Regions from separate parts of the Homo sapiens genome. Here region 1 is linked to region 2. The links come from fine-mapping of genetic effects on gene expression. A gene starts in region 2. The other region holds a variant in brackets. All regions are shown on one strand. Distances are from middle to middle.

What was found. PIP is the estimated chance that this variant, and not a neighbour inherited with it, causes the effect. A credible set is the group of variants that fine-mapping cannot tell apart.
Region 1: its variant is the best candidate, but not a certain one, in a credible set for the expression of SPATA3 in nucleus accumbens (GTEx, PIP 0.77).

The regions. Positions count from the first base shown.
Region 1 is chr2:231,803,026-231,808,398 of GRCh38, reverse strand. COPS7B (COP9 signalosome subunit 7B) reads right to left here. Exons shown (of 7, transcript NM_022730.4): 7 at 1-912. The coding sequence ends at 754. Among named protein-coding and RNA genes, the nearest start is that of COPS7B, 19 kb to the right of the region's middle. The variant C/T (reference allele first, on the strand shown) is at 2,613.
Region 2 is chr2:230,993,607-230,998,979 of GRCh38, reverse strand. SPATA3 (spermatogenesis associated 3) reads right to left here and starts at 2,859. Exons shown (of 5, transcript NM_139073.5): 1 at 2,446-2,859. The coding sequence starts at 2,746. SPATA3-AS1 (SPATA3 antisense RNA 1) reads left to right here and starts at 2,948. Exons shown (of 6, transcript NR_033879.1): 1 at 2,948-3,132; 2 at 3,595-3,703. RefSeq lists an enhancer at 2,815-3,348.

The DNA of each region.
Region 1 (5,373 bases), 810 kb before region 2:
AGTAGTCAGAGGCAGCAGGAAGAGTGGCCAGGAGAGAACGCCAAGCCGGAAGGAACCATTTCTGCCACCCAGCAGACCCACAGCACCCTCTGTCTGTGCTCAGATACCAGAGGTTAGTCAACCCAGCGCTCTCAACTAATTGGAGATCGGAGCTGGGCTTAAGAGGCTGAAAACCCGTGGGTTTAGTAAACACAGCCCAGCATCACGTCCCTCCACGGCCTGAACTGGAGCTGCCAACAAGGGATGAGGCAGGAGAGGGAAAGCAGCGCATCTTGACGCCTGGCTAGAAATCACTGCACCATCGTGAGGACTGTGGTACCAGGGGCTGGAGAGGAGTGCCCCCTCCTCACAAGGGGAGGGGCCTCCTTCACAATCATCCCTGGGGGCTGGTTAAAGCTGCCTCCGGCTTATAACCAGCCTGACAAAATGACGTGGAGCAAAAGAAAAACTGGGAGGGAGACAAGCCCTTACACAGAGACAAGAACCTCCTGGAGGGAAGCTGGGCAGTGTCTGACCCTGTTTTGGGATGGCATTGGTGGAGCCCCTGAGTCTGAAGGGAACAACTGGGGAAGGAGGGAGTGGGTGAGGGGGAGTAACAGTTTTTCTGGAACAGTACCAACAGGGTGGGGAGGCGCTGGTGAGGGGACGGGCAGGTCTGGAACTCACTGCAGGTAGAGAGGGGAGGAAATGGGCCCTTGGTGTCCCCTCCCCACCTGACCCAGGCCTGGTGAGTGCCAGCTGCCCCAGCCGGCCCTAGTGGCGGCTGGAGACCAGACCTTTCACTTTGGACATCTTCTTGGTGGGCTGCCTCTGCTCAGCGTGAGGGGGACACTCCCGTTCAGCCAGCTGCTGCTCCATCTCCTGAGCCGAGGAGGATGCGGTGGCTTTGAGTGTCTTCTTGATGTTGGTAACCTGGTGGGGAGATATAGAATTGGAGTGCTCAGCCTGTATGTGCTCACCAAAACTTGCTCTCACTATGTCTTCACTTCAGACAGGAAGCTAAAATCCTCTGCAAGAAAACCTGAAATTCTCTTCAGAAATCCAGATGAGCAGAAACGAGCCTGGGCTACTCACAGCAGATTTGTGGAAATGAGTCAAGCAAAAATGTGGGACTAATGCTCTCCTGGTTGAAACAAATGGAAGGGGAACATTTGGCAAAGAGGCACATCACCAACAGTGAAATAAATCGTGATTAAAATGTCCTCAGAAAGAGGGACCCAAGAATTCTACACTCTGCTGTTATTCATTTATAAAACCACAAATATTTTCATAAAAACTTTGGGAATACAGCTCCATGAACCTTCTTGAATAAACCAGTAGAGGATGAACTTCAGCCAACTAAGTGAGAAATGAAGAAAATGTAATAGAAGTACTGGCAAAATGCTATGACACTACCGTGTGCAGTATAGCTTTCTTTCACTTAACAAAATACAGACTCGTAAATACTTAAGCAGCTCTTGAACATTTTACCACGTCAGAACAGATATCCTCTGTGACACTTGAACCCTATTCTATTAGGAAGGTTCTCCAGTTTTCCAGTTTTTTGAATTGGTTCCTAGTTTGGGTTTCAGTGCTACTCTGAACAGCCCTTTATGTTTACCTTTGCATACTTCTGTGAACATCTATGGAAGATACTCCTAGAAGTGAGCTTTCCAGATCAAAGTCGATTTACATTTTACATTTGAATCAGTACTGCTATATTGCCTGCTGAAAAGTGACTATTCCAAACCTTTGCTCCTCAGTTCGTTGAGAGGAAGAAACAGCAGGAAGAGGATGGTGGTGGTAGGGAAGAACAGTGCAGTCAAATAAGTAATAGCTTTTTTAGTCTTTTTTTTTTTTTTTTTTGGAGACAGAGTCTTACTCTGTTGTACAGGATGGAGTATAGTGGCACAATCACAGCTCACTGCAGCCTCAACTGCCCAGGCTTAAGTGATCCTCCCACCTCAGCCTCCTGAGCAGCTTGGACCACAGGCGCTTGCCACCATGCCTGGCTAATTTTTAAAAACTTATTTGTAGAGACAAGGTTTCACCACGTTGTCCAGGCTGTTTTCAAACTCCCAGGGTCAACTGACCCTCCTACCTTGGCCTCCCAAAGTGCTGGGATTACAGGCATGAGCCACCACACCCAGCCAGTTTTCTACATAGTGAAAAGGAGTTGTCAGGGTCAAAAGTTCTCAACAGTCAGAATATTATGAGCTTGAGGGTAAGAGACAGTCCAAATGCAAAGACAAAACAATGCTATGAGGGTGAGACAAAAATTGGGTTCCTGGAGGAGAGCCATCATCTGCAGAATCCACCTTAACTAGATCATAAATTGTTTTTTGTTGTCACTATTTTGAGACAGGGGGAAAAGCCATGCCCTAAACTTCTGTAACCTCAATCAACGCTGTAGCCTTTCTGAAGAGAGAATGACAGAGGACTGTGGGCTGGAACAGTCATTACAGAGGGCAGGCTGGGCATGGTGGCTCACACCTATACTTCTAGCACTTTGGGAGGCTGAGCAAAGAGAATTGCTCAAGAGCAGGTGTTCAAGACCAGCCTGGGCAACATAGTGGGACCCTGTCTTTCTTAAAAAAAAAAAAAAAAATTTTAGCCAGGTATGGTGGCATGCA[C/T]CTGTAGTCCCAGCTACTCAAGTGGCTGAGGCAGGAGGATCGCTTAAGCCCAAGAGGTAGAGGCTACAGTGAGCCATGTCTGCACCACTGCACTCCAGCCTAGATGACATTCAAGTAAGACCTTATCTCAACAAAAAGACATAAAAGAAAAAAACATGTGCCTGGTGTGGTGGCACATGCCTATAGTCCTAGCTATTCAGGAGGCTGAGGCAGGAGGATCACTTAAGTCCAGGAGTTTGAGGCTGCAGTGAACTATGATTACACCACTGATTCCAGCCTGGGTGACACAGCAAGACCCAGTGCCTGGAAATATATAAATATATATATATATATATATATAAAATTTAAAAAAAAATATATATATATATATATAATAAACAGGGAGGGGAATTCAACTCTGGGTTTATCCAGTGTCCTGCCAGACAACAAAACACAATCTGGGAACCCCAGAACCCTGAGGCATCTCGCCCTCCCAGCGGCTCACTGCCACTTTGGTGTACCTCATTCAGTGAGTCACCTGGCAAGGTGGTGAGTGAATGATCTGGAGCAAGCCAATGGCTTATCACTCTTTCTCTGATAAAAGAAATATTATTTGTTTTAAGACTTTTTTTAAAAAATAGAAATGGGATCTTGCTATGTTGCCCAGGCTGGTCTCAAACTTCTGGCATGAACCAATTTGCCTGCCTCAGCCTCCTAAGTAGCTGGGACTACAGACACATACTATCATGCCCAGCTAAGGCATATTTTGATGACATTGGAGGAAAAATTAAGAAATTTGACTTCTCAGGGAACACTGCTTTATAAAATAACATTCTAAGGCTTCTCCAATTTGATATATTTTCTAAATATCCAGAAGAAAATGAACTAAAATCATAATAAGAGGTAACGACATGACTTTAGTTTATTTATTTGCATGTCAGTTACCTCTAACTTCCAAAGAAGATCCTGCAATTTAACATTACCTGAGGGAATGTGTTTTAAAGTCTCCCCAAAAGCTGACAAAATTTTAATCAAATAAGACATTAGAAAACAAACAAGTTTTTGTTTCAAGGACTGTATTTCCAAAATGGGGTATCTTTCCAAGCAAATAATTACCTTTCCCATTTGGCAAAATAGCTTTATTAAAAATTAAAAAAACAAAACCAAAAAAAATTCCTAATTTCATCTTGTCTGATAAGCACTATTTAGCCTTATTTCCTCAAGTTATTTGTGTAATAATTTTTACTAAACAATCAGCTTAGGCCAGGCACAGTGGCTCACGCCTGTAATCCCAGCACTTTGGGAGGCTGAGGCAGGCAGATCACGAGGTCAGGAGATCGAGACCATCCTGGCTAACGCGGTGAAACCCCATCTCTACTAAAAATATAAAAAGTTAGCCGGGTGACGTGGCGGGCACCTGTAGTCCCAGCTACTCGGGACGCTGAGGCAGGAGAATGGCGTGAACCCGGGAGGCAGAGCTTGCAGTGAGCCAAGATCGCGCCACTGCACTCCTGCCTGGGCTACAGAGCCAGACTCTGTCTCAAAAAAAAAAAAAAAAATCAGCTTATACTACAAATAGTTTTCTACATTATTTAACATGTCTTAGATTTACTGACAGTCTCATAACCCCTGCATGAGTAAGGAAAAGGCATTAATCAATCCCCAAATAATGGTTATATTTTCAATCCGCTTCACCTATGTTTTTGTAGCATAAAGTCATTATCAGCCTATCAGAAAGTGACAACCGGCATTTATTTCTCTCTTTAGAGTGGCCCAAGGTGATTTGGGCCGGCTTTGGACTCAGAGTATCTATGGCTGGGCTGAGTGATGAGTCCCTGACCTGCCAGCCAAGGAGCAAACTCTGCCTGTGGCACATCCACCAACGGCAACGCTCCGCTGCCAGCCTCTCAGCAACTGACCAGTTCAACTGACTCCCAAGGCTTTGCTGTTTTACTCTTTTTCTTTTCAAAGCTCAACACTTCCAATGCTTCTCCTTCACAGAGCCACAAACTCATGGTTCTCACTCTGGTCCTGAGGGAGCCCGCGCATCATCCTTCTGCAGTCACAGAAGGGCTGACCCTCTGCTTCATTTCTGTACTGCCACTCCCTACCATAACGCAGCCTCCCTCTCTCATGGTGACTCAATTCTATTTAAAAGCCTTTGAGATTCAAGATCCTGTCAAAAGCTTTTGAACAAATAAGTAGACAGAAGCATGGACACTTTCCCCTGTTATTCAGATGCCTATTTACTTCCTCAAGCCATTTTCTCCTGTAGAAACTGCTCTCATTCAGCTTTTTTAGGGGCTCAGTAACCCTGACATGCAATAAAAAGAAATAAGACTTGGCCCAGGGAAAAACTTGGTTTTTTCTCTAGTTCTGAAATACCAAGATCAGGTACCTTCCTTCCCACTCCTCAACACATGCCCTGCACTCAAGCCATCTCAGCCACACTCGTCCCCCACACCACACTTGGAAGCAGTCATTCCCCCTATGCCCTTCTGTTGTTCATGCACCCCGGGGGTTACCGCTCCTCCCCAGGTTGCCCCTCTGATCCTGCCTGGAGAGTTGAGCACCTGGTCCATACAAACTGCCCTGACTGCTGCAGCCCACACTGATCTGCCACCCTTCAATCTGTACTTGCCTGGCAGTGCCTCTCCCTCTTCGATGGCCTCCCACACCACTGCATCTCCTTTGTGTTTCAGATGCACACACCTCACTCCTCCAATAAGACTGCTGACAAATCTAAGTCCTCTACAGTCGTTACCACTTTGAGGCAAAATGT
Region 2 (5,373 bases):
TCCCACTTTTTGGCTATTACAAATGCTGCTGCTTTGAGCATTTGTGTACAAGTTTTGGTGTGCTTCTAATATGCTTAATAAGATGCTTCGAATTCTCTTGGATGTATACTGAGAAGTGGAATTGCTGGGTCATAAGGTAACTTCATGTTCCTCTGAGGAACCACCAGACTGTTTCCACAGCAGCTGCACCATTTTACATTCCCGCCTACAGTGTATGAGGATTCCAGCTTCTCTACATCCTCACCAACACTTGTTATTGTCCATCCTTCTGATTATACCCATCCTAGTGGAAGACTGGCATTTTCTTGAGCTACAATATTTCTGCACACAAAAAGGCTTGGATTTTAGAAAATGGCACGCTTTACTTGCAGGCCCTCATCCTTCATCTCCAACATTCCTTTCTACGCAGAGAATTCCTTTGGAAGAAGTATAGGGTGTCTGCTGTAACCACTGGCGAGCCACCACCATTTCTTGCTTTCTTGCTTTGCCTGTTCAATGGGCCAAATTCTTCTCTGAGTATGAGTCACATGTGTTCATTAAAAGACTTGGGAATGGAAAGTCTTGCTTTCTACCAGTACTGAAGATGCCAGTTCTGAAGATCATAACCCAGAAATGTTTCTCTCACTGGCTGATGATCACAATCTTTACAACATATAGTATGGTGCTCAAAATCAATATCATATGTCAAGAAAGGTTTGATTCCTGGCCATGGAAGGATCATTGGCATGGCATGCCTTATATTTAGCACTCTCATCTCCATCACTTATTTATTTTATGCCCACACAATCCCGGGGGGTAAACTGTGGCCCAGGGAGTGTGGCCTGTTCAAGGCTATGGAGTCGTGGGCACTGGCTCATGGCAGATCCAGGAGATGCTCGGACAGAGATGTTCTTCCTCTTGTGGAGACTCCTAGGCCTCTTGGAATGGAAAGGTCAGTGCTGTGGTTTAAAGTGAGGGTTCTGGAGTCAGAATAGAGTGGGTTTCCCTTCTCAGGGCTACCAGCGTCTGCTCAGGAGCAACCTGTTTGACTCCTATGAGCCTCAGTTTCCCCATCTATAAAATGGAGATAATATGGAAGAACTTTTATAGGATTATCACGTGTGAAAATTAAGACACCTGATCTGAATGCTAGGTACACAGTAAATGCTTAGTGATAATGTTAGTTTGCTATCACCATTATTGTTAGTAGTATAAACCAGCCCACCTCCTGAACTCCACTTGAATTCCCTCTACACAATCCAATGCTTATACAGACACTGTTTGGCTCCCAAGAAGACAGGGAACCACTTTTCCTGACAGCCATTCCATTTTCAGACAGAGCTAATTGTTGGGAAGTTTTTTATGTTGAGCCGAAGGCTTTCTGTCACTAATGTCTTCCATGGGTAAGATTGCTAATTTAGCAAATAAAAATATAGGATGCCCATGCAATACTGGGGACACACATACTAAAAATATTATTTGTTGTTTACTAAAATTAAAATTTAACTGAGAGTCTTGTATTTTGTCTGGCTATCCTATCCATGGGCCTGTATTTGTCTGTTTTCACACTGCTGATAAAGACATATCTGAGACTAGGCAATTTACAAAAGAAAGAGGTTTGTGGAACTTACAGTTCCACGTGGCTGGGGAGGCCTCACAATCATGGTGGAAGGTGAAAGGCACATCTCACATGGCGGCAGACAAGAGAAGAGAGTTTGTGCAGGGAAACTCCCTTTTTTAAAACCATTAGATCTCATGAAACTTATTCACTATCACGAGAACACCACGGAAAAGACCCTCCCCCGTGATTCAATCACTTCCCACTGGGTCCTTCCTACAACACCTGGGAATTCAAGAAGAGATTTGGGTGGGGACACAGCCAAACCACATCAGACCCTTAGATCTCTGAGGACAATAAGGAACAAGTCTATTCACATCTTCCACTTGACAGACAGACATCCTCCAATTCCTTCAATTGACTGTCATACACTAAATGGTCTCCCTGATCCTTCTCATCCTCCATCAACCCAGACTATCTTCCTTGGACTAGTTTGTCAGGCATCTTTTACAGCCCAAAAGGATAGCTTGATGAGGACAGAATAAAGCAGTATCATCACCTCCCTTATTCTAAACCATATACTTCTATAAATGCATCCTTGGTTTTTATTTTTTAGCAGTTGCATGGCACTGCTGATTCCTAGTGAGCAAGTATTACTATGGAACCAAGTTAAATGTTTATATGTATGTGTGGCTGTCTTCAGTGAGACTCAGGATGATGAGAAATGACAAAACCCAGGAATCCTGGTCTCTTGGGTAGAAACAAAAACAAAAACCTTCCCACTCTACAGCACAGCTCCAGGATACACGTTAACCATGCATCACTATCCTACAAGAACCAGCCTTTGGGATGACCCAGAACTCCATCAGCAGGAAGGCTGGAACTGCTGAAGCTAGAAGACAGCCCACCTGCTTTCCTGGATTGAGGGGCTGCCTTCACGTTAGCATCTGGAGATAAAAGGCAGCAAGAGGAGCGGCGGATTTCGGGTGCTGGAAGGGCTTGGAATGCTGGCTGCCGGGAGGTGGTTTCAAGGCTGGAATGCTGTGGTGTGGATTCAGGGCTAGGCTGCTGTGGTGTGGATTCAGGACTAGGCTGCTGTGGTGTGGATTCAGGGCTAGGCTGCTGAGAGGTGGAATTGGAGCTAGCATGCTGGGAGGTGGAGTCTCGGTGGCGTCTGGCCTCTGACCTTTTCTTCTTGACCTTCTTCATGGTAGATCCTCCCAACCTAAACGTGGACCTACATGGAGCTGCGTAATCTCCCGGCTCCCTCCTGGAGGGGCCGTTTGCCCTCTGCCCTAGGAGCCTGGCTTGGGCCTCCAGCTGGACCCAGGCCCCACAGAGAACAGTGACCCACACCTCCTGTGAGGTCATAAAAGCCAGGGTGGCTCCTATGGCAGGGCTTCAAGGGACAGTCTTCTCTGCAGACACCAGCCTGGTGTCCTCCTTCATCCCAGGCTGCCAGGCTAGGCAGGGGACAGCGGCTGCCCTGGTCCTCACAGCCCTGGCTACGGGGCTGGTGACAGCCAGATCCTCATGCTTCTGCGACCTGAGCGCTGCCTTCAGACACCTCTCTGCTGGCGTGTTCCTGGGTCCATGTGAGCTACCTGTTTTGCTCTAAGATACCCTGGATGTGACGCTCAGCTCTGTCACTGGCTTCCACATACCCCCTACTCCTACACCTCAAAAATCCATGTTCCCCACGCATTCATCTTCAGGTCAGCTTCCTGAAGATTTGGAGCTTCTTCGAAGGCTTTACCATGGCCCAGAGCCTGCTACCATCTCAGAGTAGCTTACCCCTTCCCCCAAAGCCTGCCCTCCCGCACTGTGGGAGGGGAGTTTGGGGGTTGACTTGACTTTTATAAGAACCTTTGCATTTGGCAGATAATTTTCCCTGAGAACATAACAGCTGTTCAGAAAACTAACATTTGTCTCAAACTCATGGCAATGGCAACCACAGACTATCTCCCAAACCCCAATTGGTTGGGTTAAACAGGTGACTGAATCTTTCTCTAGATTAATTAATTTAATGTGCTCATTAAATGTGATTTTTGTTTTAGGATGGAAGAAGGAAAAGTATTTTTAAAAGACAATCTGAAGCTCATACTGTGACTGCAACATAAAATGTGTTCACCTGAGGAGACTGCTTTCATCGCCAGTGTGTCACAGGTGGGTGAGTGTGGGACTGGCAAGCGCAGGAGCTCCTGCCCCAGCGGAAGGTTTAGAGCAGACCTATGCAGATAAAAAGGGCTTCGGTCACGCCTGTAATCCCAGCACTTTGGGAGGCTGAGGCGGGCAGATCACGAGGTCAGGAGATTGAGACCATCCTGGCTGACATGGTGAAACCCCGTCTCTACTAAAAATACAAAAAATTAGCCGGGCGTGGTGGTGGGTGCCTGTAGTCCCAGCTACTCGGCAGGAGAATGGCGTGAACCTTGGAGGTGGAGCTTTCAGTGAGCCGAGATCGTGCCACTGCACTCCAGCCTGGGCGACAGAGCGAGACTCTGTCTTAAAAAAAAATGGGGGGCTTTGGGCCACACAAAGCCAGACCCAACATGAACTCTGAAATGACAGGACATAGTTTAGGGCTTCTAGAGCCTAAAAATACCTTAATGATGACCTTTCCTCAGAACACTGAGGTTTAGCGAAATTAAGTTACTTTCCCAGGGTCACACAGCTGGCTGGGGGCATCGGAAGGACTAAATTCCAGTTTGGGGCTCATTATTTTCATGATCCCAGAAAACAATAGGGAGTCAGATAATTATACAGGCTTTGAAATAATGAATTAAAAAGTCCCCCAGTGGCCTGGTGCGGTGGCTCACGCCTATAATCCCAGCACTTTGGGAGGCTGAGGCGGGCAGATCATGAGGTCAAGAGATTGAGACCATCCTGGCCAACCAACATGGTGAAAACCTGTCTCTACTAAAAATACAAAAATTAGCTGGGCATGGTGGTGCACGCCTGTAGTCCCAGGTACTCAGGAGGCTGAGGCAGGAGAATCACTTGAACCTGTGAGGCGGAGGTTGTGGTGAGCCGAGATTGTGCCACTGCACTCCAGCCTGACGACAGAGTGAGACTCGTCTCAAAAAAAAAAAAAAGGTCCCTGAGCGAGAAGATTGAAGAAAACAAAGGCAGGAAGGATCAGAAGTGAAGGCAAGCTCAGCTCAAGAGTATTGGGTTGTGTTTGGTTGACCTTGGCCTAAGGAGGCTCTGGGAGCAAGTGAATCTGTATGAAGCTGGTAATTTCCTGAAGCCAAGAGCAATGGAACCCTTGAGGGGACTCCATTTAGAATCAGAGAGACTGGAAACCGAGGCCGGGAACCCTGTTGAGATCTAGCAGACAGCTCAGGAACTCCTAAGGCATTAATCTCTGCAAAGTTGGATTTTCAGGTACCAATGGGCTTCGGCCGAGGGCCTCAACCTGGTTTAAATCAGTGTTTTTCAACCTCAGCCCTGTTGACATTTTTGGGCTGAGTAATTCTTTGTTGTGGCGGGTCATCCTGTGTATTGTAGGAAGTTTACCAGATCCCTGGTCTTTACCCAGTCTTTACTCCCCCCTACCCCAGGACAACCCAAAATGTCTCCAGATATTGCTAAATGTCCCCTAGAGATGGGGTAGGAGTGTGTGTGTCCACATTGCCCCTGATTGTGCCATGTTGGTGTAAATGAATCAGATAGGAGCAGACACATATAGGTAGAACTTCCTGGTAGCAATGAAAGAAATATTCCATTTTACCAGAAGGAGCCAAACAGGGCACAGAGAATGAGTCTCTGTCTTCCTGTAGAAAGATGGAGGAAGCACAGAGGGCAGGCCGAGGGAGGAGTGGGGAATTTCTCTG